Regions from separate parts of the Homo sapiens genome. Here all the other regions are linked to region 1. Evidence: fine-mapped expression QTL. A gene starts in region 1. Each other region holds a variant in brackets. All regions are shown on one strand. Distances are from middle to middle.

Evidence for each region. PIP is the estimated chance that this variant, and not a neighbour inherited with it, causes the effect.
Region 2: its variant is fine-mapped to the expression of GALNT14 in subcutaneous fat (GTEx, PIP above 0.99). The same link has a PIP of 0.9 or more in macrophages.
Region 3: its variant is fine-mapped to the expression of GALNT14 in whole blood (TOPMed, PIP above 0.99).
Region 4: its variant is fine-mapped to the expression of GALNT14 in whole blood (TOPMed, PIP above 0.99).
Region 5: its variant is fine-mapped to the expression of GALNT14 in fibroblasts (GTEx, PIP above 0.99).
Region 6: its variant is fine-mapped to the expression of GALNT14 in spinal cord (GTEx, PIP above 0.99).
Region 7: its variant is fine-mapped to the expression of GALNT14 in whole blood (TOPMed, PIP above 0.99).

What each region holds. Positions count from the first base shown.
Region 1 is chr2:31,136,855-31,140,919 of GRCh38, reverse strand. It overlaps GALNT14 (polypeptide N-acetylgalactosaminyltransferase 14), which reads left to right and starts at 2,480. Exons shown (of 15, transcript NM_024572.4): 1 at 2,480-2,962. The coding sequence starts at 2,834.
Region 2 is chr2:31,002,939-31,007,003 of GRCh38, reverse strand. All of the region lies in intron 1 of GALNT14 (polypeptide N-acetylgalactosaminyltransferase 14), which reads left to right. Among named protein-coding and RNA genes, the nearest start is that of GALNT14, 130 kb to the left of the region's middle. The variant C/T (reference allele first, on the strand shown) is at 1,656.
Region 3 is chr2:31,011,429-31,015,493 of GRCh38, reverse strand. All of the region lies in intron 1 of GALNT14 (polypeptide N-acetylgalactosaminyltransferase 14), which reads left to right. Among named protein-coding and RNA genes, the nearest start is that of GALNT14, 120 kb to the left of the region's middle. The variant G/T (reference allele first, on the strand shown) is at 2,061.
Region 4 is chr2:31,163,266-31,167,330 of GRCh38, reverse strand. No RefSeq gene overlaps it. Among named protein-coding and RNA genes, the nearest start is that of GALNT14, 27 kb to the right of the region's middle. The variant G/A (reference allele first, on the strand shown) is at 2,017.
Region 5 is chr2:31,331,987-31,336,051 of GRCh38, reverse strand. It overlaps XDH (xanthine dehydrogenase), which reads left to right. Exons shown (of 36, transcript NM_000379.4): 36 at 44-1,731. The coding sequence ends at 94. Among named protein-coding and RNA genes, the nearest start is that of XDH, 81 kb to the left of the region's middle. The variant A/G (reference allele first, on the strand shown) is at 1,571.
Region 6 is chr2:31,064,789-31,068,853 of GRCh38, reverse strand. All of the region lies in intron 1 of GALNT14 (polypeptide N-acetylgalactosaminyltransferase 14), which reads left to right. Among named protein-coding and RNA genes, the nearest start is that of GALNT14, 72 kb to the left of the region's middle. The variant C/T (reference allele first, on the strand shown) is at 2,131.
Region 7 is chr2:31,105,151-31,109,215 of GRCh38, reverse strand. All of the region lies in intron 1 of GALNT14 (polypeptide N-acetylgalactosaminyltransferase 14), which reads left to right. Among named protein-coding and RNA genes, the nearest start is that of GALNT14, 31 kb to the left of the region's middle. RefSeq lists an enhancer at 1,158-1,659. The variant AG/G (reference allele first, on the strand shown) is at 2,439.

The sequences.
Region 1 (4,065 bases):
GTTTAGAGACAAGCTCTCGCTATGTTGCCCAGGCTTAAAGCTGGTTATTAAAGCGTTTCAAATATATTCCTGAGCATGGGGGACCCCTGGATAGACTGGGTTCCTGGAGAGACCTACAGAACTAGGCCCCGCATGGACACTCACTTCACTTCCAGATGTTTGAAGTCCCACTTGAAATCTACTTCAGTCCTAATGATATTTACTGGTTTGACAACCCAAACTGATATCTGATATGATCTCTGGATGGATCAGCTAATGACACCTAGCAAAACTGGATTCCCTTGACAGCTTCCATAGGCCCAGGAAATCTTCCTCACTTGAGTAGAGGACAAAATAATGATTTGAGAAGAAAATCATTCCTGGAAGGAAATTCCCACTCTCTGAGACATTGCAGTCCCTGCACGGAGCTGCCTTCACCCCAGGGCCTCAGTTTCCCCATATGCCAAACAGTCAGAATGAGGCACCTCAGCATCTCAGCAGTGTGGTGAGCAGCGTGGTGGTGCTGCACCATCTCAAAAGCTTGGCGGTGTTCTTGTGTAACTGTCTGCCATCTGTTACTCAGAAGCGGCATTACAAAGCGCTGAGCAATGGACTCCTGTGCTGCAGCTTCTGCCTGGAGCCAACAGCAGCTCAGCAGCTTGCCTGGGGGTCCCCTGCAGAGCCTGCAGCAGAACGCTTTGCAGGCCCGAAACTGCAGGTCCCGGGTGAGGCTCCTGAAAGAGGTCCAAGGTGCTTGGGATGCTGCAGAGGTGAGTTCTCTTGCTGCTCCCCCTACCCCTCCCATGATGATCATCTACCTGGGCCTTTGCTGGGACAAAGCATTGGCTGGGGAGCCTACTCCCACCTTTCAGTGTTCAGAGTTCTGATAAAGGCAAATGCTAGATCAACCCTGGGGTTCTGTGTGATGGTCTAAGAGCGCAGGTAGATCTTGAAAGGGCTGGCAACAGTGCTCACCTTTTCTGGGCTGTTTAATTTCAACTGCGGTTCCCAACCCCAAACATCTTATCTACAGTCCAGTCAAGAACTCTCTGAGGTTGAGGCAGGACTTCCCTGTGGCTGAAAGATAAGGTACCAAAAACAGGAGGCTTTGAGTAGACGCCTCCATTTCTCAGTACATGTCTTTGGGGAGACATCTTATTGAAGAAGGAATTCCAGAGCCCTGATTTACAGCTGTCTCACCTGTGCGGAGGTATGGGAGCTTGCCCTACACTGAGCTTTATGGGGAGAGAGGGGCAGGGAGAATGGTGGCTGCCACAGTGGGTGCATCGTTCTCACCTCCCCAAGAAACTCGATGAAGCAAGCAACCCTCCAACAAAAATGGCATGGTTCCCGCTGCCTCTGCTCCCCAGACAGAGCAAGGTTTCCCCACTTTGAGTGGTCAGATAACACCAGCACCTTGCATTCAGCTTTCACCACTACTCATTTGCTTGTCAGAGGAGGTATTTTCCCTCCATTTTACAGATGAGGAATCGAAGACTGGGAGAAGGTAAATGACTTACCCAAGACTCACACAGTGAGTGTGACAGCTAGGTCAGTACTCTCTGGTCAGTGATCTGGCCGTGATTCCAGCCTACTTGAGCCTACATGGGAATTGGAGTTAGAATTTGCTTTGCTTCTAGATCCAAGCGGTTTTAATCTGCAAGTGGGAGGGGGATACAATTCCCAAAGGCCCTTGGGAAAAGGGGCTTTTGAAAGATCACCCTCTGCACCCAGTATCCTCCTGCCCAGGGTCACTTTCCAAGAATCCCAAGTGGTTGTTCCAACTTTGGACCTCTTTTCTTGCAAGCACAAAGCCCTGATGCTTACAGGGAGAGAAAACCTTTATGGGAGATAATTGCGCCTTAATTTTTTAAAGGATATCTTTAAAGTTAAAATTAGACCAGCTCAGCTTTCCTTCCGTTAAGCAGAAAAAGTTACCAGGCACCTGCAGGCAGGCATAGAAACACCCTGGGGAGTTGGCTGACCGCGGCCTTGGCCCTCAGTAGCCAGGCAAGTGAACCGCGGGTTTGGGGCAGCAGCCCTGCCGGCGCCCTGGAATCCCAGCCTTGGCTGTGGTAGGACGAGCACATTGGGGGTGGGACCCCGGCTTCAGCGCCACGTGCAGCCCCCGCGATGAGCGGGAAAGTCCTCCCAGGCACAGCGCCGCCTGGCGAGGGCCGGCCCTTGGGTCCCAGCTGGCAGCTGGGGGTGGCGGGCATCCCGAGTGCACCGCTCCCGCCCCGCCCCGCCTTGCCCCAACCCACGATGGTCTGGGAGCTGCGCCCAGGGCTTGGCGCTGGCGGCCCCGCAACAGCACCGAGCGTTTCGGTCGGCGGGCGGCGGTAGCGCCCCCTCTCAGAGCCCCGCTCACTCCCACCTGGGCTCGCTCCGAGTCGGCCTGTCTGTCGGGCCCGCCCTCCCCGCTCACTCCCTCCGCCCTCGTGCTCCTCCCGGGGTGCTTGGCACAGCCTCGGATTCCTCCCTCTCGCTGCTCGAGTCAGTTTCCCTATCGGCGGCAGCGGGCAAGGCGGCGGCGGCGGCGGCGGCAGCCGCGGTGGCGGCGTGGGGAACATCTCGGCAGCCACCGCGCTTCTCCCGCTGGAGCGGGCGTCCAGCTTGGCTGCCCTCGGTCCTTCCCTGCCACGTTTCGGGTCGCCCTGCACCCCCCACCCAGGCTCGCTTCTCTTCGAAGCGGGAAGGGCGCCTTGCAGGATCCTGCCGCCCCTCCAACCGGATCCTGGGTCTAGAGCTCCCCAGAGCGAGGCGCTCGCCAGGACTCCTGCCCCGCCAACCCTGACCGCCGGGGGGTGCCCCCGGGACGTAGCGCCGCGGAGAGGAAGCGGCAAAGGGGACCATGCGGCGCCTGACTCGTCGGCTGGTTCTGCCAGTCTTCGGGGTGCTCTGGATCACGGTGCTGCTGTTCTTCTGGGTAACCAAGAGGAAGTTGGAGGTGCCGACGGGACCTGAAGTGCAGACCCCTAAGGTAGGCGGCTTGCCGGCGCGCTGGCGCTGAGCGGTGGCTTGCGGGAGGGCGCGCAGCCCGCGTGCCGGGTTTGCGGGCTCCCGGGAAACCAGGGCGAGGGTCTGGGTGCTGCGAGCAGGTAACAGCCGCCGGATGTGGCTACCATGTGATGTTTCTGGATTTTAAAACGCTCGGGGGCATCTCCGGACCCGCGGTGTGCATGAGTGGCAGTGGGTGTGGGTGGTGGGCGCGCGCTCGCCTGCGGAGCGGGGCTCCCAACTTGAGCTGCGCGCGAGGGTCCCGGGGCGGAGGGGGCTCTGCGGACGGGCGGCCCAGGGGCTGGCGGTCTCCGGGCGCTGCCAGAGAGTCGCCGGCGGTCGGGTCGGGCCAGCGCCCGGGCGAAGTGTGGCGGCTGCGCTGACCTCCTTCCCGCAGCTGCCAGGCCCGACCTGGGGAGGCCGGAGGCCGGGTGCGCCGCGCGCGCCTGTGCGTTGCGGGCGAGCGCCTTGCAGCCTCCCGGGCGGCTGCCACCCCTGTTCTCTAACTGTTCCCGACCCTCTCAGCTGCATTGGAAGTTGAATGTGCCCAGAACACCACGAAAGAGCCTGTAAAAACAGACGCCTTGGTATTGGCGGGGAGTTGAGGAAATGGGAATCCAAGTGGCTTTTCCAACTCCTGCTCAGTCAGTTCCTGTGAGGGAGCCAGAAGGTTCCCCCTATAGGCTCACTCTTACCTTCAGATTCAGAGCCCTGTAGGGGGAAAGGGAAAACTTCCCCATGGCTCTCCGAAGGTTCACTGAAAATCAGTTGACAAAAGGCAGATCAATAGGAGAAAAGGCATAATAATTTATTTGATCATAGTTTTTCGTGACATGGTAGCCTTCCGTTTTCTCTTCACAGATTTGGCCCGGGGACACGGAAGGAGGCCTCTGGGGGATTTCCTGGCCAGCCAGGCAGTCTTTATAAACTGGGTCCAGAACAGTCGTCTAGGGGTCTGGGCAAAAGCCTTGGAGGAGCTTATGGTCGGAAATGGGAGACTGAAAAACAGGAAGATGTGGGCGGGAGGTGGCGTCTCACCAGTTAAGTACAGTACAGAGGGCCTACTGTGTGCCAGGTGCATAGTAG
Region 2 (4,065 bases), 130 kb after region 1:
GTTTTGAGAGAGCTAGAGGGTATCTTGATGTCACCTTATTTACAGAGAAGACAGAAAATGTGCTAAGCTCTGGGCCCTTGCTGTACATACTATCTGGGGAGATCTATCCTCCCCCTAGCAGGCGTAGAAGAGAGGGGAACAAATTCTGCTCAGCTGAAAGCTGGAAGCTTCTTGCTAATGTCACCTTTGGGGATTGAGTGGCAGGGCTTAGGGGCACTTGACTCTGAAACTGTCTTCCTAGCCATATTCCAGTTTAGCACCTTTGGGCACGTGGATTAAGGAAGGGGGTTCCAGAATAACCTTGGCAGAAAATGTACAACTGTGCTTCCTGCCATGCCTCCTCCTTCATCCTTCCCAGGTCTATCTCCAGACAGGCACTGGTTTTGGAAGCCTCACTCTATGAATGATCCCCTATCATGGCAGGGACTTTGCAAGGTTGTGCATGGAATCTGCGTGCCTGGGTTTCATCCCAGCACCTCCACTGACTTGCTGTGTGACCTTGGCCAAGTCACGTTAGCACCATGAAACTCGGTTTCCTCTTCAGTAAAATGGGATTAATAGAAGCACCTGCCTTGGGTTTGTTCTGAGTATAGAACGAGGGACATTCTTAGGATAGAGCCTGGTGTGTAGTAAACGCTACACCACTATTAGTTGCAGTAGTTGTCGTTGTCATTATTCTGGGTGATTGTATCTAGTGTGAGAAGTAGTCACTTTTTAAAGCCAGTTCTTTCGCCTGGCTTCCCACAGCTTCCCATCTTTATTTCTCTCAAGGTTATCTTTGCCTGGCAAGAACCTAGAGGGAGATTTGAGGAAGCTGCAAACCATGCTAAACACATTCCTCGTGAGTGTGACTGTTGGACCGGCCATTCCAGCCCATGGAGCCAAAGTCCTGGGAGGCATGGAGAAGTCCCTTCGGGACTAAGTTCAGACGAGGAGAAGGGACCAGAAGTCAAGCAGGAAGCTCTGAAGTCCAGGTTCCTCGGAGTATGGGGTCTCAGGCAGGTCCAGGCTTCTAATCTCACCCAAGTCTCTCTCCAGAATCACCCTGCACAGCTTCTGTGCTGGCTCCAGCCCCCACTCTCCACGTGCATAAAAAGCAAGTTAGCACAAAGCTCAATTTCTAGCCTTCTAAGCTGATAATAACCTTATGTATTACGCTTCTTAAAATAGTTTTCTTGTCTTATCATTTGCATGGCACTGTGCTCAAACTCGTGTGAGATGGAGCTTTGGGTAGAAAACACCTGCTGAGTCCCAGGAAGCATTCACATTGATAATGACCAATTCTCACAGACGGACAGTGAGGTGAGGCACCCGGTCATCTGTGGATGCTGTCAGAGACCCCATTTCTGCCACAGGGAAGGGAGAAGCAGCTAAACTTAAATTGACTGACTGTAAATTGCGTTTTCCCTCCATTAGCATTCAGTCACCAAAAGAAATAATAGTAACCACAGCTATGTTGTAATGATAATATGTTGTGTATGCATTATGTTTTACCAAGCAATTTTTCATGTCTCATCTCACTTCTGAAGCCTAATTCGGGCTATGAAGCTGGGTGAGGGTGAAGATTAGTATTGTCCTTGGGAGGAGGAGGAAACTGACCACGAGGTTCTGAAACTGACCAGAAAGGATATGTTTAGCTGAGCCAAGCTCAGGAC[C/T]CAGCTTTCTGGAATTAGAGGAGTCATCCCTGGGGCTGCGCTTCCCTTTTTAGCCCATCTCCACTCCCCACCCCCACACACACAACACAGAAGCTCTTGGGGCTGCATTTCTGTCCAGCTAAAATTGGGTTGAAAACAACAAAGGATCCCTTGAAGGAGAAAAATCACAAATGCATAATGTTTACTATGATCACTTTTCCATTGTTTGATTCTTCCCTTCTTTTCCGTTCTTTACCCTTTTCCTTGTATTCCCTTAGTGTCCTAGGGGTCACAATTTGGTGGCCAGCAGGCCAATGTCAGCCCATGGGCATGTTTTGTTTTGCCCAAGAGCAGGTTTAAAGCAGTGTAACTAGGCAGGTATTGTGCGGCACCTACAAGCCATCCACTCTCGCTCACATTTCTCAGTGACTCCAGGTCTGCTCATTCATGACCCCTGCTAGATACCTTGGTTCAGAGGGCCTCTTGAAAATTGCTTTTCCCTGTAGCTATTTCTTATGGCTAGAGAGCTTTCTGATGGTGCCTTAAGATATGTTCCAGTCCTTTGCAGTGAGCTAAGGAGGGGAGAGAAGCCTGGCTTTTGGAGGGAGAGCTGCTCTGTCCCTGATAAATCCAAATCTTATTTTTAGGGTTATTTTCCTCCTAGTGGTTTTCAGTGGGGTGGGCATCTGACTCGGCCCCTCCCTGTCCTGTTGGAGGCTGCTCTGGCCACATTGTGGGGCCACCCTGGGAGGATTTGGCCTCCTTTCTCTGATATTGCTGTCTCTGAGAGATGGCTGCAGCCTCACCCTTGCAGACCTGCCCTCTGTCTGATGAGTTGACCCTGCATCCAAGATGGCTCAACTGTGCACACCAGAGACAGCATGTTTCAGCATCCAGCTCTATCCAGCTCCATCCAGCTGAAGCTGCCCTCTCTGAGTCACTTCCAGCTTTGCTCTACCTACATCCAATCCCTCCCCTTGGACTCTCCTGGGTACTGGTTCCTGTTCTCAGTGCCTGTTCTCTTCCAGTATTGGCCTCCTGGTTATAGGCAAATTCACCCTCCTGTGCTTCCACCCAGTCCACCAAATCCTTTTTTTCCTGAGTCCCCTGTGGATACCTGGCTCCCTGCCTCCTAGATCACCTGCTCCCTGGGTACCAGAGCTGGAGGACACAGACTCTTCTCCTGTTCCAGTGACCAGCTTGCCGCTCTGGTCTCTGAACACAAAGAGAAGGGGATGCAGAAATAAAGCGTGTGGGTAGGACCAGCTCTCTCAGTCCTCATGTCCACCGGCAATTGGGATGTGTTCTTCAGACAAGTGACTAGCAATCCAGGATGCCCATCGACATAAGGGAGTTTTGGGTTCAGTCTTTGGTGGTGGAATTTACAGGGTGTTGATAAGAAGGAAGCAGATACATCAGCATTAGAGCTCACGCTTCCTGGCACGTGCCTGGGAGCCAGGCCCGCTTCCCCAGTCATGCTGACTTAGACTTCCCTGGCACCTCCTTCTCGTGCTAATTTGTAAGTAAATTAATCTCCATAGAAGGTCCAAATATGTGAGTTTCTTTTTCTATTCCAGAAACAAAAACCGGGCTTCTGTCCATTCAGTTAATCATATTATGTTTCACTGTTGGAATTTTTAGGCAATTATAATAATTATTGGAACTTTTCTTCTTCCAGAAAGCTGGAAGCTTCCCCCAAAGTTGTAATGCATGTGGAGCGCAATTGAGACATGGGTGGGGAGAGTGTTTATGGGCGAAGTGGTGGGGAGGAGAGAGATGGGCAGTGGTTGCTTTTGTTGTCAGAGACTAAATGAGAGAGAAATCAAATGGAAAAAGACTCCCACACTAAAGAGGGATCCAGGCTTGGCCTGGCTGGCAGACCCTCCGGGGGCTCAGAGATGCCACAGCAGAGCAACTCTTAGCAGACTTATTTTCTAGGCACCTGGCTGTTGAGGGAGGAGGGTGAGGAGGAAAGTGGGGAAAAGGGACAGGAGGAGGTAGAACAGAAAAGTAAACTCATCCCTGCTGAATTATGTGCTACCTCATTTGGTGCGAGAAATTGCCCTTTCTTCCTCTATTATATGTCCATTCTATCTATCAAACTATTTAAGGAGTGCCTTTCATATAATTAATACTAACCATTAAACTACAACATTGAAGGAGCAATTGCTTAATTCTGAGGAAAATTTAAATTTATTACCAGTACCTGAGATAAAAATGAATACTAAAGAGAAGGAGAGAAACCCCCACAGAAGATAAATAGAAAGCCAAGTGGGATATTGACTTGATCCTTCTCCAGTGCAGGGTAATTTGGCTTCTAAAGTGAGTTAGAGCATAATAAATTAAATTTAGATTTCTGCACATCAGTTAAATAACTCCCAAGACAGAATTCCAGTGAGAGGAAGAAGGTGATAATACATGGAGGAAATAT
Region 3 (4,065 bases), 130 kb after region 1:
CTCAACTGTTAGCCCATCGATTTTAGTATAGATGGAGGCAGATTTTCCGGACCCTTTTTATAAGGCAGAGTTGCCTTCTTTCTGCAATTCTCCTGTCAGGAGTGGATTTGGGGTGCCCTGCAGAGGCTGTAGTCACTAACTCTCAACTCTCACTGGCAGAGAGTGAGTTCCCATCTCTTTTTTTTTTTTTTTTTTTCCTTTGAGATGGATGTTAGCTCTTGTCACCCAGGCTGGAGTGCAATGGTACGCTCTTGGCTCACTGCAACCTCAGCCTCCCAGGTTCAAGCGATTCTCCTGCCTCAGCCTCCCAAGTAGCTGGGATTACAGGAGTGCACCACTATGCCCAGCTAACGTTTTTGTATTTTTAGTAGAGATGAGGTTTCACCAAGTTGGTCAGGCTGGTCTCAAACTCCTGACCTCAGGTGATCCACCCACCTCAGCCTCCCAAAGTGCTGGGATTACAGGCATGAGCCACGGTGCCCGGCCAAGCTCCTGCCTCTTTAAAGCTAGCGAGTGGTTGATTCTTCAGAGGCCACAGAACTTTAGCCCTTCCCTCCCTCCTTTATGCATTCCCTCACCTGCTAATTTACACTTCTGTCTCATGTTTCCTTCTCCTTCCTCTTCCTTTCTCTGGGGTTCTTGTTGAATTAATTATGGCAGGAAAGACTGGTGTAAGGGTACAACCCACACAGAACTTTGCACTCTATATACATGGTAAACGCAGGGGTGCTTTAGGGATCATTGACTCCTACCCTCTTATTCTACGATGAGGAAATAGGGAGAGTTCAAGTGACTTGCTCAAGGTCACACTGCTAGTGGGTGGCAGATAGATTGGGTCTAGAATCTGACTTGCTGACCTACATGTATCGTGTGTCCCAGCATGCTGCGTTCCTCAGGGCTAGTCATATGGGGACCTGTTCAGGCCTTCAGAAGGGGGCATCCACTGGCAAGCAGCTGGATCCACACTGCTTCTCACCATGCCCCTGCCAGGAGGTGAAGGCTTGCTTTTCCTTCAGTCTTCAGTTTCTCTGCCTCAGTCCTGGGGAAAAGAGTTTGCTCTCTGTGTGGTTGGAAACTGGGGGCCCAATGCCTCTCTGTGGGAGGGGCTTCTCCCTGCAATGAGTTGCAACATTGTGAATTGATACAGCAACCTACTGGAGAGCCCAGAGCCTCACTAGCTATCCAGATCCAGAGCTGATGGGTACCCCCTTGCCTTTTTTGGGGAGGAAGGGGGAAGGGAGATGTTCACTTTTATTCTCATCTTTAGTCAGCTTCTCCTCTTAATTGACATTTACTATGTGCAAGCCACTGCTTTTTACCTACAGTATTTTCATTTAATTCTTAAAACCCTGTGAAATAGGCATTATTCTCCCCATTTTACAGGTGATGGAACTGAGGTTCAAACAGGTTAAGCAGCTTCCTCCAAATCACATAAACAGTAAGCAGTGGAGCCAGTGTCAGAGCATAGGTCTTGAGAAAATTTAGGTTCATCTGTTTTCATTCCTTAAGTGCAGCTTTCATGAAATCTTACAGGGACAGAAACTTAAAGCCATTGTCTGCACAATCGTTATTTTTAGATTGTCAGAGTCTATAACACTTTTGTAGTGTTTCATGACCATTCCCATAGCTGTTTACTTTTAGTTTTGTAATTACATAGATTCAGTGCTCTACTGGTTCTTCTGCTCCATTCTTGGGTTTTTTATTTTGAACCACCTCTTCATTGACTGCATGTGGGAACAAAATTCATATATAAAGCAGAAATGGCATTAACAGAAAGAGCATGGGCCAGACAGACTGGGGTCCAAATTAGAAGTCTGCCATAGTGGATTCTAGTGGCTGCTTCAAAATGGGCTCATAGGTGCTGTCATCCCTGAGCTTGGATGTGGGAATATCACACTCCTGCTGTCCGTACTTGAACGGCACCTCAGCAGGTTAAAATGCTTCTGGTCACATTTGGACTCAGCCCCGTGGGTGTTGCTTCATTATCCGCTGACATGGAAAGCTGCCGCGGGGAAGTTTGAGGTCAGCTGAACATTTCCCCTTCTGTAGGTGACTTGTTG[G/T]TTCTGCCTGGGTGCTTGATGATTTCTTTCTTGCATTTGGAAGTTCGATACCTAAACCAGGAAACATCTTCGTGTCAATCCCTTTGTATCAATTTTTTATGGAATGTGGTGTGCAATTTTGATGTGCAGACTCAGATCTTTATTCATCTCAGGAGGTTTTTATTTAAAAAGATGAAGACTGTTTTGTGTGTTCCATCTGTTTCTCTGCTTCAGGTTCACCAGTTTTCTGATGTTGGATCACCTTTGCTCTTTCTATACATTTTATTCTCTCCTGTAGTTGCTTTAATAATTTAAATCTTTCTCCTCTGAGTCCCAGTGACTTGCCCAAGGTCCCACTGCTCAAGAGTGTCAGAGCCAGGACTGGAACCCTTTAGTTGGTATCAGTAATTAGATTTCCTGCTGTGCCTGCACTGCTTCTTGGAGTTTCAACATGTATTTATTGGTTCTGCAAAAGTGTTTTGTGGTTCTCAGTTTTATCATTCTTTATTCCATTGCTTTATTTAATCATCTAATCCTTTAGCTCTTATTTTATTAAATTCATGCTTTTAAGCTATTCCATAGCATGAAGCACGTTTGGGTAATTTCCTTCCATTTGTTTAGTTGTTTTTATTTAGACTGGGGTTTTTGTTTTGTGTGTGTGGGTGGTGTTGTTTTTGGATTTTTTTTCATACTGTGTTCCATTTTGTTGGTTTGTTTGGTTTTGGTTTTGGCCCCACCCACACAGGGGCATGTTTGCATCATTGCCATGCAGTTCCTTTGCATCTTGCTTGACCTACACACCCTGATTCAGGGCAAGTTCATTCTTAACCCTTTTTTCACCATGTCTGAGCCTGTTCATTTCCTCCACAAGGCATAGTTTGAGGGCTGTGAGTTCTGTGTCTGTCCCCTTGTCTGTAGCCTGAGGGCCTTGGTGGAGTGAGGTGGGAAGGGAGAGCTGCACTGAGGCTGTGAGCAGTTTTTATTACCAACCTCTCAGAGAGAAAAGCCACACTCCTGCCTCCAGGACACACGCTGTTTTGTGGAAGAGACCCAATAAACAGGTAACTATAGGTGCTGCCATAAGAAGAGGGGACACTATTAGGTTGCAGGGACCAGATTTGCTTGCTTCCTTAAAGTCATGGTGGTGGCAGTTTAATGGAAGGATGCCAGTGTGTGGGAACCAGGGTTAAGCCAGACCAAAAGTCCAGGGCAGTACTTGCAGACCACGGCAAAGAACTTGGCCTTTATTCTGTGAGTGGGATCCAACCGTGTCTTAGAAGAGCCATTCCAGCAGCAGTGTGAAAAATTAAATACAGGTCTAAAGACATAAATCCCCAGCGCTTATCTGTTGGTCGGCTCTGCAAAGAGAATGAGGAGATATCTTCTGTACTGGAAACTGTCACCAAGGAGTAGAGAATTTCCTGAGCAGACTGGCGTTCCCCACCCTTCTTTGCCCCTGCCCGTTTCAAACACCTTCAGCTCCTGGGCATCAGCTGAAGAATGCCTAGCTTTTCCCCAGTGCTGTGGATCTCTGGAGATGTGTTTCCCGGCTGAGCGTTATGGCAGCCAGAGCCAGGCGGCACGTCCAGAGAACACATCTCAAGGTTGTTGTTTGAAGTACAAACAGAGCAGGGACCAATTATGGAGTCCCTCTGCACAGCATGCCTCCTGACTGTGCTCGGCATGGGGTGGGCAGAGGCTGGCAGAGCTGAGGAGCCAGCTTTGGCCCCCTGAGGGGTAGCTGGGAGGGAGAAGGGAGAGTATCATAGATTTATTTGCTGCCAGACAGGTCTGCCAGTGTGAGCTCATCTTTCAGAGAGGCGCCCTCTCCTCTTAACAGCCAGGTGCCTCCTGTGGCCCCAGGGTGGCACTGGATCCTAGATCCTGTGAGCAGAATTTTGCATCTATTTCTGGGGAAGAAAAGACCATGGCTTCTATTACACTGAAAAATAGGGCCCTGTCTCCTCAAATAGTTAAGGATGCCTCTGCTATGTAACCCCTATATTTTATAGGTGGGAAAAGTAAC
Region 4 (4,065 bases), 26 kb before region 1:
CCCCTAGAAATACAGATAAACACCCATGGCTTTCAGCAGATAAATTGATAAGCTACATCTGTGGCCAGTCGTACTTGTCCCATGTCTCTCTGATGGGATTGGGCCCCAGGCACCATCTGTCTTTTGTGCCCCTTGCTCAGACCTCAGCTCTGGTATTTGTAATCACACCATGAGCAGGAAGTGCTGGTGGAGTTCAGGACATGTAAGCATGGCATGACTCAGGGTGACATATGTTTTCCTTCTGTCCTCTCTTACAATGTTCTAAGTGTGTTGTCCCACCCTGTCCCTCTCCCCTTGCTTCTTGCTGTATGTTTTAAATTGACCTATCACCTATGTGATCTCAGCCCCTTTGGTCTCTGAGCCCATCTGTTTGGTCACCAGAACAGCTAGTTGGTAGTAGACATGGAGGATACCATTATTGCAAGGTCACTTCCCCCCATGACACTTGGGGCCAGAACCTGGGAGCTGGAGCTCAGGGCAGTAGAGCTGTTTACTTCCAATTGTCTGGCTTGGCTTCTGAGATGTGAGTGTTGTGTCTATAGGTGTGTGAGGGTGCAGGGGGAGGGAGTCCCTGCTGGTTCCTCTGATAAGGCCTATTAGTCCCCCTTCCCACCAGCCCTCATCACAGTGGACCATCCCTGAGAGAGAACGCTGAGCAATGCCTACGACCACATGCCAAGGACAGCTTCCCAGTGACCCTGGATTTCCCTCCCTAGTCCTAAAAGGACAGAAAGTGAAGTAATTTTAGCAACCACCTGGCAGACCCTCATGCCCTCCTGGCCAGCCTGACCTATGTTCCAAGAACATCACCCTCCTGTAGCTCCTCCAAATGTCATCCATGAGAAGCCACCTGTTAGAGTCCAGCCTCAGTCACTTATTGGCTGTGTGACTTAAGCAGGTCGCCTAAACATTTTGTGCCTTGGTTTCTTCATTAGTATTAATGACATTTAGCCAGCCTTCAGTAACAGCAGACATGCATTGAACAACTTCAAGCACAGATAAGACAAGTAGTCCTTTATTTTTTTATTTGTGTACTTTTTTCTTTAAAAAATATAGGCACAGAGGCACTGAGCTAGATCCTAGCATAGAGATGAAAATTCAGTTCCTGTCTTTAATGAGACGGCAGTCTGGTTGCTCAGTTCATGGTGTGAGGAATACACCTGGGGTGCTCAGATCAACCTCAGAGTCCTGGAAGAGTTCCCAGAGGATGTGGTGCTGGACCTGAAAGCTTAGCCGTACCCAGGGAAAGGAGGATGCTCTAGAGAGGAGGAGCAGCATGGGAAAGGGACAGAGCATTACACCAGAACTCATCAGGAGAGTAATAAGTGGTTGTAAGACAAGTAGTTGTAACAGGACATAGGGCATTTTGGAGAAATCGAGCTGGTAGTTTAGCAAAAGAAATGTTGGCCCAAGTAGAAATGGGAAGAAGTTCAGAGAATGTATTAATAAGTGACCTACTCTAGTTGCAGTGACAGGTCCTCATGACCTACTCTTCCTGGGCTTTCTCTGGTTTCTTAGAACCCCAGAAGGCCCTGGGAGGTTTCTTTCCAATGAAGTCTGCCATCAATCCCCATCCTCATGGCTGCACCATCCCACCTCATGCCATCAGAGACCCAGATGAAGCCCAGGTTGAGAGTGTGGTGGGGAGAGGGGCAGCTTGCAGTGTCGAGGCCGGCCAAGTTATCTCACTCCAGCCATTCAACCTCAGGAAGGACCTGAGAGCAGTAGGGGAAGAAAGAAGAAGCTTAGCCAATTTCAGAGCTACTATTCAGCTTTGGTTTTATCCCACGCAGCTGGGAAGGCATTTTTTTCCCCATTCATCTTGTGAGAAGAAATGGGCACAAGAGATACATCCCAAGAAGCAAATGGGGTCTTCGGTGTATGAGACAAGGTGTTCTCCACCCAGGTTCACACTATGCAAGAACAGGCCCTTGGTCAGGGGCTTTAAAAATCTCTTTTTTGCTACCACAGAATCTTAATGAACATTCAGGGCACTGCTGGACACAGGGCAGGGAC[G/A]GCCTGGAGGCTCCTTGTAGAGGAAACCATCTTATTGGTAGATGGTAGATCTCCTTGTAGAGGAAACCATCTTACCAACCTGGTCCAGTCAGAAGAGAGAAACCACACAGGAAGTTGAACAAGGAAGTTTAATATAAAGACTTTAAAATTACACGGAGCATTGGAGTAATTGAGGGATTAGATAGTAAAATGTAAGGGGGATACTAAACAATACAATAGCAGATATGGGGCATCCACTACCCTACAGCTGAGATAGAGTGACCAGGAAAGAGGTCTCTGCCCTTTACTTAGAGCTGATCCAGACTTGACTGCAGATGGCAGGGGTGTGGCTCATGGAATGGCAGGGAAGCCACTGTGGTGCTATGCTGCAGAACTTGCTGGAAATCTGTCCCCTAGGTGCTGAGGATAGCTGTTCCTGGGAGGGTTCTCAACAGAGGCACTCTGTTACAAAATTGCTCACTTTATGTGTAATTTCCTCACAACAAAATATTGAAAAGACATGTATTCAGGGGTTGAGATTTAATAAAAGTAATCATTTTTACTGCATCATTGAAGACATTCTGAAATGAAATTGGCTTTTTTTTTTTTTTTTTTGCTGCAAGTGAGTGGTGGTAGAGAACACAATGACTAGTATGGTGTGGTTCCACTGCCTCGATTTGCACACCTTCAGCATAAATGCCAACAAACAAGAATGGAAAATAACAGCTTAGTACTATTACTAAAATGGTTTTGACCTCACAGGCCCCCAAAAGGATCCTGGAATATCAGGTCCAAAAACCACCTGTGGAGAACTGCTAAGCTAAATGACTTGCCCAAGCTCCTAGACTGGGAAGTGATGGAGTCAGAACTCAAACATGGGACTCCTAGCTTCGAACCGTGTGATTTTTCCACAAAACCTGTTGGGGTCCTCAATAAATCACATATCTCTTCCTGTGAGTGTGTGGTGGTAAAGAACACTTAATAAGTTGAGAAATAAAACTAAAGTTCAAATACTATTTTTATTACTGATAGAACCAAGTTAGTGATATTGCATTAGGTCTGTTAACCAAGTGGGCATGTGGGCTTGATAATTCCAAACCCCATCAGCCATGCAGCCCAGCCTGGAAAGAGGTCCTGGGGCAGAGGGAGGAGCATTCCCCCAGAGAGGCAGAGCAGAATAGGGGCTCTCTGTGGCTGCTGCCTCCTAGGAGATAGGAAGACGGAATTAGGCATGGCCAGTTATTCCTAAATCAGTTAAGTCTCTCCACCTTCATAATACAGGGGAGAAAGCTCAGCCATAGAACAGGATTCTCAGATGCTTACTGCACTCATGTTTCATATTTGAAATGTTTTCCCTCCATCTCACATTTGTATCCTCATCCTGCCCAGCCAAATGGTCTCAGTAGCCAATTTCCAGTCATTTCTTGGATGTGCTCAGCATCTCTCCTCTTGCCTTTGCAACTTTCTACAAAATAGGTTAAATGCACTCAGATGCTTTTTTAGACAAAGCATATTGGGAGTATAGAAATAACCCCACCCTTATTAAGAAACAGTGGGGAGGTGGGGAAGAGAAGAAGTCTAGTATCTGATTGAGCCTCTGAGGGGCCATATTGTGATGGGGACTTCACAGCTCAAGGCGCAGGTGTTCACAGATGTCCAGAGCAGGGCACCCAGAAGTGACCAGCCTCTGGAAAACTGGGTCCCCACTGGTCCTGTTCATGTCCTTGTAATGTATCAATCAATCGTCAATGAAGGATGCCCCTTTAAAATGACCAGATATTTATGTCTGCCCTCCAAGAAGGGCCATTCCTGGGTACCTGGAAAAGCAAACACATTGTTAGATGGCTAAACAGAGTTAAGGACCCAGGAGTGAGACAAGCCTGATCCCCTGCAGAACAGTGATGAAATATCTGTGCTGCCAGATGTACACAGCCTTCCTCCCCTGGCCAGCCCTCCACAAGCACAATGGGCTCTGCTTTCGAAGACTCCATAGTGACCAGCTGTCAGCTCCTTTCATCCATCTGCTTGTGCTTGTCATGACATCACCTTCTTCATTTTAACACATCGCCC
Region 5 (4,065 bases), 200 kb before region 1:
ATCAGCAGACCCTGGCAATGAGAACACTATCATTCCTTCCTAGTGTGTCACTGGTGTCCCAGAAAACTGCAAACCCTGGTCTGTGAGGGTCTAAAGAGAGAGTCCTCAGCAGAGTCTTCTTGTGCTGCCTTTGGGCTTCCATGGAGCAGGAGGAACATACCACAGAACATGGATCTATTAAAGTCACAGAATGACAGACCTGTGATTTGTCAAGATGGGATTTGGAAGACAAGTGAATGCAATGGAAGATTTTGATCAAAAATGTAATTTGTAAACACAATGATAAGCAAATTCAAAACTGTTATGCCTAAATGGTGAATATGCAATTAGGATCATTTTCTGTCTGTTTTAATCATGTATCTGGAATAGGGTCGGGAAGGGTTTGTGCTATTCCCCACTTACTGGACAGCCTGTATAACCTCAAGTTCTGATGGTGTCTGTCCTTTGAAGAGGATTCCCACAAACCTCTAGAAGCTTAAACCGAAGTTACTTTAAATCGTGTGCCTTCCTGTGAAAGCCTGGCCTTCAAACCAATGAACAGCAAAGCATAACCTTGAATCTATACTCAAATTTTGCAATGAGGCAGTGGGGTAAGGTTAAATCCTCTAACCATCTTTGAATCATTGGAAAGAATAAAGAATGAAACAAATTCAAGGTTAATTGGATCTGATTTTGTGAAGCTGCATAAAGCAAGATTACTCTATAATACAAAAATCCAACCAACTCAATTATTGAGCACGTACAATGTTCTAGATTTCTTTCCCTTCCTCTTTGAAGAGAATATTTGTATTCCAAATACTCTTTGAGTATTTACAAAAAAGATTATGTTTAATCTTTACATTTGAAGCCAAAGTAATTTCCACCTAGAAATGATGCTATCAGTCCTGGCATGGTGGCTCACCCCTATAATCCCAGCACTTTGGGAGGCTAAGGCAGGAGAATTGCTTGAGCCCAGCAGTTTGAGACCAGCCTGGGCAACATAGAGAGCTCCTGTCTTTAAAAAAAATTTTTTTAATTAGTTGGTCTTGATAGTGCATGCCTGTAGTCCCAACTACTTGAAAGGCTGAGGTGGAGAGATCATTTGAGCTCAGGAGGTTGAGGCTGCAGTGAGCTATGATTGCGCCACTGCACTCCTGCCTGAGCGACTGAGCAAGATCTTGTCTCTGAAGAAAAAAAAAGAAATAAAAATGCTGCTATCAAAATCAAGCCCAACCAGAGGTAGAAGAGCCAAGAAGCCTGGGTTCTCATCCTAGCTCTGTCTCTTCTGTCTCTATCTTTGTGATCTTGGACTGTCAATTCCCCTTCCTGTGATCCATTTTACTGCAAACATAAGGGTTGCAGTAAAGGGTTGTCTCACGTCTTCTGCTTTAAAAGCCTATAAATATATGACCTGAAAACTCCAGTTACATAAAGGATCTGCAGCTATCTAAGGCTTGGTTTTCTTACTGTCATATGATACCTGGGTCTAATGAACTCTGCTGAGATCACCTCAAGTTTCTGCGGTTGGTAAAGAGAACAAGGGAAGAACAAACATCCCTTTTATTGCTCCAAATGGTGATTTAATCCCTAC[A/G]TGGTGCTGGGTGGACAATGTGTCACTGTCACATGCCTTCACTGTATAAATCCAACCTTCTGCCAGAGAGAATCTGTGGTTCTGGCCATGGAGGGAGGATAGTGGAAATGATATAGTTGGACTGGTGCTTGATGTCACTAATAAATGAAACTGTCAGCTGGTTGGCGTGTGAAAAATGCTTATTAATTATCATCACACCAAATGCTAGTATCTTCAGTATCTTGGCCAGCCTTCATTTCTTGAAAACACACACACACACACACACACACACTTTCTTACAAAAATCCCTCTCCAGAGTATCCTAGATATGCTGGCTGTTGTACAGCATGGTCAAGGTAGAAGAGCTTTAAAAACTAAACGAGTGTTTACACTGAGATCCAGGTCCATTTCAGATGATTTTCTGGGATGTTCTGGGACAGGGCCTGAGACCTGTCACTTGTTTTTAGTGAAGCTCTTGGGGTGAAGCAGTGACACAGAATTCCCTTGTGTGCTTAGGTACCAAGGTGAGAGTAGAGTGGTCATGAAAATCCAACAAGAAAGTGCTTTGTGAACTAGAAATCACTGTGCTATTCAGAGGCATCGTCCGTCTGAGACACCTTGCCTTGCCCTGTTGTCTTAAAGTGCTTCCAGTCTATACAGTGAGATGTCTTGGTCTTTTTTGGTGTTGCACAAGGAATGCAGTCAACACTGCCTGCGGTATCGCCTGGAACCTGCAGAGGGCAGTAGAAGATTGAACAAGGGGCAATATTGTCCAGGTGGCCCAGCAGCATCGCATTTGTTAACCATTAGGTACTGATTTAGGTAGGATCTCTGCATAGACCAGATGTCCTCGGAGGCTTCCCCAAGAGCTGAATTCAAAGCTGACTTAGGGTTTTAGAATGACAAAAGTCTCAAAGGAGCTCTCCAAAGACATGGGTCAGCCGTGGGAGTCTGAGCTCCAGATGAATGGCTAGCAAGGGGAAGGCAATTCTTATTTTCAGAGTATCTGCAACTTGCCAGGTGACAAGGTGAATGCTTTACCTACAGGGTCTCATTTAATCCTCCCAGTGGTTTTACGAGGTAGGTCCTTTAACCCCTATAACCACATGAAGGAGAAGCCCTACCCCTGACCATGCTGAGGGCTTACTCAGAGACATTTACTCCTAAGTGCCCACCACAACCAGCGGGCAGCTCCCTTACAGGCCAGGAAACCTGGTGTGTATTGGGAGTCACCTGCCTGTCAGAGTGGACAGTTGCTAGCCAGGCTCACGGAGGTGGATGGAGGCACCAGGATGCCCACCGTTTCATTTATAGGCAGGCTGAGGATTCTCTTGCTGGCACGGCCAGGGTACTGAGTTGTCATCAGGGCAGCTGATGAGACTCCCCTTACTCCAGAGCTAGGTGGCTGGGAGGCTGGGACAGGAGGGCAGGACAGAGGTTGTAGGAGGAACTCTGGGCAAGGGATAAGGACAGAAATAGTCTTAGCTGATTGATTTATGACTGAGAACATCCCCGAACCCATGGTATTTTTATCTTTTGCGGAGGGGGAGCCTGGAAACCTGTCCATTTGCTGCCTATTTTGGATCGTGGGACAAGATGATTCCTGACATACAGCTTCCTTAAACATGAGGTCACCCTGGTGCCCCCCAGGCCCAGGAGCCTGCCCTTTTGTTTTGTTTCTATCCTGAACTGGGGGAGTACGTGTTCCTAAGGCAGGAGACAGATCCTGTGACAATCTTGTCACCTGAAACAAATCAACCTATTGATGGAAGTGGAAATGTCAGGCACTGCCCAAAGGGATTCTGGCGTCATCTCTGTCCTTGAACTGTCCTGCTCTGGCTTGCACAACCCCCCAGGCCACCTCAGCATCCCAGAACTGGAAAGACCATCAAGTTCAATCTCTCTATTTTAGAGAGGAGAAACATAAGCCCACAGAGAGAAACTGACTCGCTCAGGGTCCTACGGCCCTTTAGTAGCACAGTCAGACTGACAGCAAGGCTGCCTGGTTCCTGGTCCAGGCTTTTTAAAACTTAACCATACACCACTAGTCAACTGAGCCTTCTATTAGGAAACCTGTGGGTCAGGGAGCTGGGGTATATGACAGAAATCTAGTTACACTGAATGGGAAGAAGACAGAGCAAGCTTGAGGCCCAAGATAAACACTGGTGAGGAGGGTAATATGCCTGTATGCCTATATATGCCTATCTGCCTGTGCTCCTGTCACAGGATGCTAAAATGGGATTCTTTCCGCAGCCCCACAGATGGGAAACAAAACAATGAGTGCAAAAACATCCCCTCATTTCAAAGAGAGATGCTGAATCTAAATCATCTGTGCAAGACTTGCGGAGAGATGGCTGGAAACTAATTTTGCCACCATTAACTCCTCATCTACCTCAAGAGTTTAAAAGATTGAAGTACAGAATTTGAGAGATTGGGAAGAGAGGTTTCCTTTGGAGGTAGCAAACCATGCATTCTCCCTGCCAAACAGGAGAGAGTGTGTGTGTGCATGTGTGTGT
Region 6 (4,065 bases), 72 kb after region 1:
TGTGCTGTAGCACGTGCCAGTACTTTCTTCCTTTTTATTAGCAAATATTATTCCATTGTATGGATATGCTGGCTTTGTTTACCCATTCATCAGCTGAGGGACATTTGTTTTGTTTCTGCTTTATTATTAGTCCTCCAGCCTCATCTTAAACACCTAGGGGCCCCATTGTTGCCCTGTCTGCACGGGGCAGTGGTGAGCTGCTCTGTTCAGAAAGGTTATCCCAGAACTGTCTCTAGTGTGGCTTCTTTGCAGGGGGAGGTAGAACAGGAGTAGCTCTGCACTATTCAAAATGCATTTGCTATTAGTTATGGACCTTTCTTTTCTTTTCTTTTTTTTTTTTTTTTTTGAGACGGGGTCTTGCTTTGTCACCCAGCTGGAGTAGAGTGGCGTGATCTCTGGAGTGCAGTGGCGCAATCTGGGCTCACTGCAACCTTCGCCTGCTGGGTTCAAGCTATTCTGGTGCCTCAGCCTCCTGAATAGCTGGGATTACAGGCGTGTACCACCCCACGTGGCTAATTTTTGTATTTTTAGTAGAGACGGGGTTTCGCCATGTTGGCCACGCTGGTCTCAAACTCCTGGCCCCAAGTGATCCACCTGCCTTGGCCTCCCAAAGTGCTGGGATTACAGATGTGAACCATTGCACCCAGCCAATTATGGACCTTTTTAAGTCTACAGCTGCCTTCTCTCAGAAGCAACTGGAACATAGGGGTCTGCTGGTCTGGGCTCCAGGGTTCTGACCAGAGTTTCCAGTTTTGGGAGTGGACTTGGAATCCCTTTCTGGGCAGGGCTTGGGGAAAGGATAAGAGTCTGTCTTGAGGCAGGAGGAAGGGGTGGCTCCTGAGCTTTGTTTCAGGTACAGAGAAAGAGAGTCAAGGCCCACACGAAGGAAGAGCAGGTTCCAGAATGAGGGGCCCAAGTCCCCAGCCTTCCTGCCTGCTCCTCCCCAAGACTGTAGGTCACAGGAGGAGTAACGGTGTGCATGCCCAGACTACCTGACTCGCCTTAGCCACTGAGTGACTTAAGTCCCTGAGCCCTTCTGAGCCTTAATCCTTGTCTGGAAAATGGGGTGAGACATGCCCATTTTATAACATTTTAATGAAAATTAAGTGAGCTGATAGTGGTAGAAGCAGAGCGCTGTATGGAAGTGACAGAGGTTTATTTTTGCTGTGCAAGTTGGCTCCAACTCTTAAGTCCTCCCTCTGCTAGAGGGGTAGGCTCTCCTGTCTTTGAAACTGGGTAAACTGAGGCATGGAAAGCCACCTCAGTCATGGAGCTACCATGGGCAGAGCCAGGGACCCTATTTTACAGCAGACCTAATGTCCTGAGCAGACCCTGCTTTCCTGAGTGAGTGCACCCTCTGCCGGCACAAAACCGGCTCAGAAGAGGATGCTCAAAGTCTGCAAAGTCCGGGGATGTCGTGAAGACAGCCTGAGTCTCTCGGTGACCCCTGTGCCTCTGCACTCAGCACGGCATTCCCAGACTCTCAGGGCTTCTCTAGGGTAACGAGGGGCACTCATCTTCTCTTTGGCCCCCGTGGGGACATGGACCCCTTGCTCCTGGGCTCACTGCATGGCTGGAAGTTCAGAGGTTCCTGCTGCCATTCCTCTCTGCAGCACAGAGCACTGAGACTGACTATGGGAATCTCCTGTTTGGCCCCCTGCCCTTGCCTATGTGACAAATAAGGGGACCAAGGCCAGGGAGGCTGGGTGATGGGGAGAGAGGACCCTGGGCTGGCGGGAGGTAATGGCAGGGCAGATACTATGGTCACTGAGGGATGATGATGCCAAGACTGCTGGGGGAAGGAAAAGGAGACTTTTGGCTGAGGAAGGCTGTCCTGGTCCCACTGTGTCACTGGTGTTACAGAGGGTAGGGAAAGGCTGATGTCCAGGCCCCTGGGCAATGTCGGGGTGAGGTAGGTGGGTGTGCAGCAGCCTGCCCCTTTCCCAGCTTGGCTGGGTCTGGAAATTGCATTTTCCACAGCCTGGGCAGCTTTCTATGTGACTAGATTTCTCCTTTCTGTTTCTGGAGGGCAGCCCAGCTCAGGAGGCTGGCATTGTGTGGCACCGTGGGAGCAGGCTGGCCTTGGTGGGGGGTGGGGGGTGCTCTCAGTGGTGGCAGTGTTGGCCTGGG[C/T]GGGCATCTCTGTGCACCTGCAGCTGAGCCCTGGGGGCTGCCTGCTCTGTGCTCCGGCTCTTCACAGAAACCAATATTTGCAGTCAGGTTTATCTTTCCACTGGGATCCTGGGGATGATGATGTTTTGGCCGAGATGTACTTCGTGTCCAACTCCTGTCAGCATTTCTGAGGGAAGAGTGCTCATTAAAGGCTTCCCTGCACGGCCCCTCCCTGCTCACTGGGCCTGAGTGACATAAATAAGCCCCTTGTTTCTTTTTCACGAGCAAACCCAGACCCTTAAAGATGGCTGGACACCACCCCCCCGCCCCCCGCCCCCGCACCCTTTCGCAGCTGCTGGAGTCTCCGGTGGTGTGGGTGAGTAATGGCCCTGTCGAGGCCCAGCCTCACTCCTCTGGCTTCTGACAGGCACCTGGGTGCTCTACAGCTGGGAGGCTGCTAGGAATTCTTCATCGGTCTCCCTTAATGGTAATGCCCTGGCCTCTGGGGGGGCCTACAACCAGCTCAGCTGAGGAGCCGATGCAAAGCATGGAACAGCAAGCACACTCAGAATGTAACCTCCATGGGATGGAAAGGGGCAACAGGGCCATGAAAAAGGGCCCTGTCATGTATGCCTCCTCCTCTGGGCACCTACAGCTATGATCTCATCTCTCTCACATATCAGCCCTGTAGGCGAGGTAAGGTAAGAATCAGAGAAGTTGAGCCACTTGCTCTAGGTCACACAGGTAGGAAGAGGGTGGGGCGGGGATTGGAATCCTGACTCGAAGGCCTGTACTCTTGTTACTGTGCCCTACTGTCTTCCCATGGGTTAAGTTTTTGGATGGTCTCTGGGGGATACTTAGGTAAGTCACAAGGCATGAATATATTCTGAGCTGGAACTCAAACCCAGGTCTGCCTCTTGACTTCTGCTGGGCTCTTCATTCTCCTCAGACACCCGGCAGGAGGGATTTGTAGGAGGGTTAGTTATGGTCTATCTCAAGGTCAGAGGCTCCCCAGCACGATTTGAATGTGATGCCTTCCATAGTGCTTCAAGTCACACATAACTTTTTCAATACAGTCTGCAAATCTGAGGCCCTGCCGGACCATCATCAAGTTGACCAGGCAGGAAGGTGTGCAGCAGCAGCATCTGCCCATTCCAAGGCCCTCCTCCTGGCCTCTTGCTGGCCCTGACTCCCCTCCCCAGCATGATGCCATCTGCTCATGATCTTGTCTGCTCATCTTTGCCAGGCACTAAGCTGCGTGCTGTACCTGTAGCATTTAATTTGCCTTAATTCTTACCACTTTCCTGAAAGGTATTCTCCCCGTTTTTCTGATGCAGAAAATGGATCTCTGAGAGCGCTACTGACTTGTCCAAGTTCACATCACTGTTCCATCAGTGGAGGGACTGGGACAGACCCACAGGAGTGCTTTTTCCACCATCATCTCAGCCCTCAGTAGAGCAGGAGTGAGGAAGCGGGAGGCTTGAGGCAAGAGTGTGAAACATCAGACATCACCTTTGCCCTCAGGGCTCTGGAGACCTCAAGCATCCACATAATATTTAAAATAATAAAACCAATGAGTAGACAATAAAGGACCAAGATGGATATCTGGGCTGTATATTCTGTGGGTGAACAGAGCTGGGAGGTCTTCTGGGCTGATCTGGAGAGAAGAGACCAGTTTGGGGCCTGCTTCTGGCCACTCCTCCATCTCCCCCACTTTTCATCACCCAAGGAGAAGCTCAGCCAGCCTGAAAGTGTGAGCGCTTCATCTGCCAGCAAGGAGGGAGGAGACAAATCACTTTAAACGTGCGAAGAGTTTTTTTTACCACTCTTTCCCTTCTCATCTTTGTTTATTCTGGAGATCAATACAGACAATGGGAAAGTTATTCCCAGGAGAAGACCTGGCTATGTAGTTTTAAAATATACTTACTCCTTCTTCCCCAGTCCCCTTCACCTTCC
Region 7 (4,065 bases), 32 kb after region 1:
CTGCTGTTGGTTTTGAAGTAATGGCTGCATTTGGCCACAGTAACTAACAGCTGCATTCCAGGCCTGGGTGAAGTGGCAGCTGATTCACCAAGCACAAGGCCTCCCTTTATGGTGTTAGGGGTTGGAATCTGGGAATGAGATAACAGCTGTGCTGAGCAAGAGGTTAACCAGAATCCTCACTTGTTGAGGTTAGAAGCCTTTGAGTTGATCAGGTCTACTTGCCCTCTCCGTGGTTGATGTTGAGACTAGGGAGAGGAAGTTACTTTCTCAAGAGTATCAGCTGGTTAATGGCAGAACTTACTTAGAACCTGACTTCTATGCCCATAGTCCAAGCTCTTTTCAGTCTGCCTGTTCCAACCTGTGCTGTGCTTGCCTTTGTAAAATCCAAAGCTCAGTAGGGAGCAGGGAGCTGCCGACAGGAATGCTGGGTGCCTGCTAGACCCTCCAGCCATGACAGCCATCACAGAGCATGCATATGATTAATGCTTATATAGTCCTCATTCCCCAAGGACACTGTTTGTGTGCTACAGAGTCTTCTGAAAAAGGGCATATGATTTCAAAGGATTATTTTATCAAAGGATTGTTTTTATCCTCATTCTTTTGGAAAAACCGAATGCCCAATGCTCCAACCAGTGTTACCTTTCTTGCATTTTGCTCTTGAAGATCTGGGCCTTCCTTGAAGGAGTAGCATAGGGAAGAGAGAACAAACCCTTGTGTTTGCCTTTAAGTCAGCTAGAGATGTTTTCAGCCTGATGGAAAATTAAACTGGGTTAGGTCTTCTAGAGCCCGCCTGTGTAATTGAGCGGGTGACGTGTCCAGCCTCCCTAACTCGGAAAAAACTTACTGTTCACACTTCATTCATACGTTCCTTAGTCCTTGGCAAGCAAATTGCTTTTGAAGAATTTATGTTTCCATCTGCCACTTCTATTAGTAAGGGCAATATTTGTGACTGATGTAGTGATGGTGGAGTCCTGGGGCCCTGGTGATTTGATGTTGTCCATCTGTAGCCTGAAACTTCAGGGTTCATGTGGGGTCAGAGGCAGGAGTCTGGCCTTGGTATTTCCTGAATTACACTGCCTGGCTGGGGAGCCTATGTTTGCTCACAGCCAGGCAGATGGTGCCAAGTAGTGGCGTGTTCTTACTGCTACTTTTGCAGCCAGCCAGAGATATGAGACAGGACAGCTAGCTAATTGGTATTTTGAAGAATCTGCTGTGTGTTTCAGCGTGAGTGTGTGGGTTGCTGGGGAGGTGGTGAGAGTCTGAGGTGTGGGGTAAGATCCTAGTCCTAAAGAATCAGCTGTTTTTTTGGCTGATGGTCTATGGGAGAGCAGCCCTCAAGCTTTAGGGGAAAGTTAAAGGAGAAACAGGACCGAGGTGAAATCATCAGCACCATGGAAAGCACCATGTTGCTTGACGTTTAGGAAACCCTTCATAATGGCAAACAGACTTGGCCTCATGTCTGTGCCTTCCCTACTGTTCTTTGATAAGAAGAAGCTAATGAGAAGGACAGCATTTTTTTCCTTCCCATTCTGCTAATAGAGAGACTGAGTCTCAAGAGGTGACTCGTTTGAGATGTAGTGGTGAATCAGTGGAATAGGCAAATAGGACTTCCTGTATAATGTGGCTGCTGTACAAGACAACCTCTTCTGCTCTTCCTCCTGGATACCATTACAGTCTCCTTGTTGCTGGACACAACAGCAAAGAGAACAATAGAAAACTCCGAAATGCCATTTTCAGTGGAATTAGAGGATAGATACAATCTGTGGAATGTGTAATGTGTGCAAGGGCTGTCCTGAGCAGGAGGGTTTGGGAGAGGCCATGAGGGGGAAGTAGAGGTTTAGGAGAGTACCTGGTGGGCTCAGGAATAGCAGGTGGCAAAGAGTGCCAGAAAAAATACACATCCTGGATATAAGGGGCATCCTGAAGAGGCAAAGCAACATCTCTTATTTGTAATCAACGCAAATAAGGACTAGGGTGAGCAAAACTGAAGAAACGTACCTCCTGGGCCTGCTTTGATTCAGAGAAGCAGAGGAGGTGCATTTATACAAAGGATCATCCAGAAGACACCTAACTGCAAGAAACAATGTTTTTGGCAGCAAATAAAAGAGGCTTCCTTCTTTCCTTCCTTAACATGTTTGTTGAGATATAACATACAGGAAAGCACACAAATATTTTTCAGTTTGATAAACTTTTGTGTAACCACTATTCAGATCAAGGTACAGAATCTTTTCAGCAGCCCAGAAATCTCCATGTGCCTCTTTCTAGTCATTAGCTCTCCTCCACAAAGAAAGCTTACTTCAGTAATGAAAGTCTACCCTGGGCCCTCCTTCCATCCTCAGAACTTCCTGCAAAGAAATGATCCAAGAAAGCCCATCTCATACAACAATAAGTAATAAAAAAGAAAGTAGGATCATTGGTAGATTAGAAGCAATGATATT[AG/G]GGGGAAGAATGTCAGCAAGAGCCACGAAAATTACCCCCAAATAAGGAACATTCCCAGGAAAATAATTTCAGGGAGCAGATGAAAAGTCTAATCAAGTATTTCACAGTGAATTTAAAGAACTCAACAAAGCAATCATTTCTGTGAAGAAAGACCCAACTTGCAGAGGTAAATGCTTGGGAAAGGATGACAAAATGGCAAGAGGTGGTGAAATGTGAGCTGGCAGAACTCAAGGAGGAAATAAAAGAAAAAAAGGCAAATTGGTCTCAGAAATGAAGATGAAGTTGGAAGAATCTCAAGGGAAAATAGACACTGTGGAAAATGCAGTGTGGAACATAGATGAAAGGTGAATAAATGAAACATAAATAAGGGAAGCATTAATAAAGATTAGAGAGAAAATGATTGACATAGAAGACAGGCAGTGGAGAGCCAGCAGAAGCATAATTTTAGTTCTTGAAAGAAAACAAAAAATAACAGACATAAAAAATAGACACACAGAAAACACACACAATGGAACATATTTAAAATATTAGGAAGGCTTTCATGATCTAAAAGAAGACTTAAATCTAAATGTTGAAAGAGCACGAATTTGGGTGTTGGGCAAAATTATCCAGAACAGCTCATACCAAGATTATAGCCTTGGGAAGTTTTAGACACGAAAGATAGGGAATAACCCCTCCCCTCCCCTTGCCTCCTTTTCCTTCTATGAAAGCAGGGTAGAAAAGTGGGTGTGGAGGTGGTGGGCAGGGGACATGGCTAGAATGGTTGGAAGATTGGTTAAGAGAAAGGATAATTTATTGAGCAAGTAAATAAATATAAAGAGGATAATAGGAACCGTGTTTTTTACTGTTTGAAAGGGGATTTCTAAACATGGAAAGAAGGAAGGCTAGAAAAGTCCTAGCATGCTGGATTGGAATTAGAAGTGTCAGTATGTACATATATACATACATTTTTTTCTTAACTCCTTCGTCCGAAAGCAGTGGAACTCCAGTAGCAATGAGTGCATGGTGAGTACTCAGACCTTGGTTTCTTTTTTTCTTTTTCTTTTTTTTTTGAGACAGGGTCTTGTTCTGTCACTCAGACTGGAGTACAGTGGTATGATCTTGGCTCACTGTAACCTCTGCCTCCAGGTTCAAGCGATTCTTTTGCCTCAGCCTCCCAAATAGGTGGGATTACAGGCATGGGCCACCACACCTGGCTAATTTTTGTATTTTTAGTAGAGATGGGGTTTTACCATGTTGGCCAGGCTGGTCTCGAACTCCTGACCTCAAGTGGTCTGGCTGCCTTGGCCTCCCAAAGTGCTGGGATTACAGAGATCTTGGTTTCTAAATAGTGCCCTACACTGCAAGTTACCAGGGGGCCTCAGAGAAGTGGCTAACTTAAGGGATAGGGCAGAAAAAGTATAAAATGAACCTGAAAGACCTTGTCTTGCCAGAAAGTCAGGAAATGCTCAAGAAAAGATGGGGATGTGTCAAAAGGACACAGGAGCTGGCTTGAAGGACTTTCCACTGACCAATTGAGAACAATATGAGCATCAAAGTAAATATCAAATAATCAGAGTATTAGATTACAACCTATTGAATAAAATAGGAATCTGTAAATCCATACTGTTATAAATAAGTGAATGA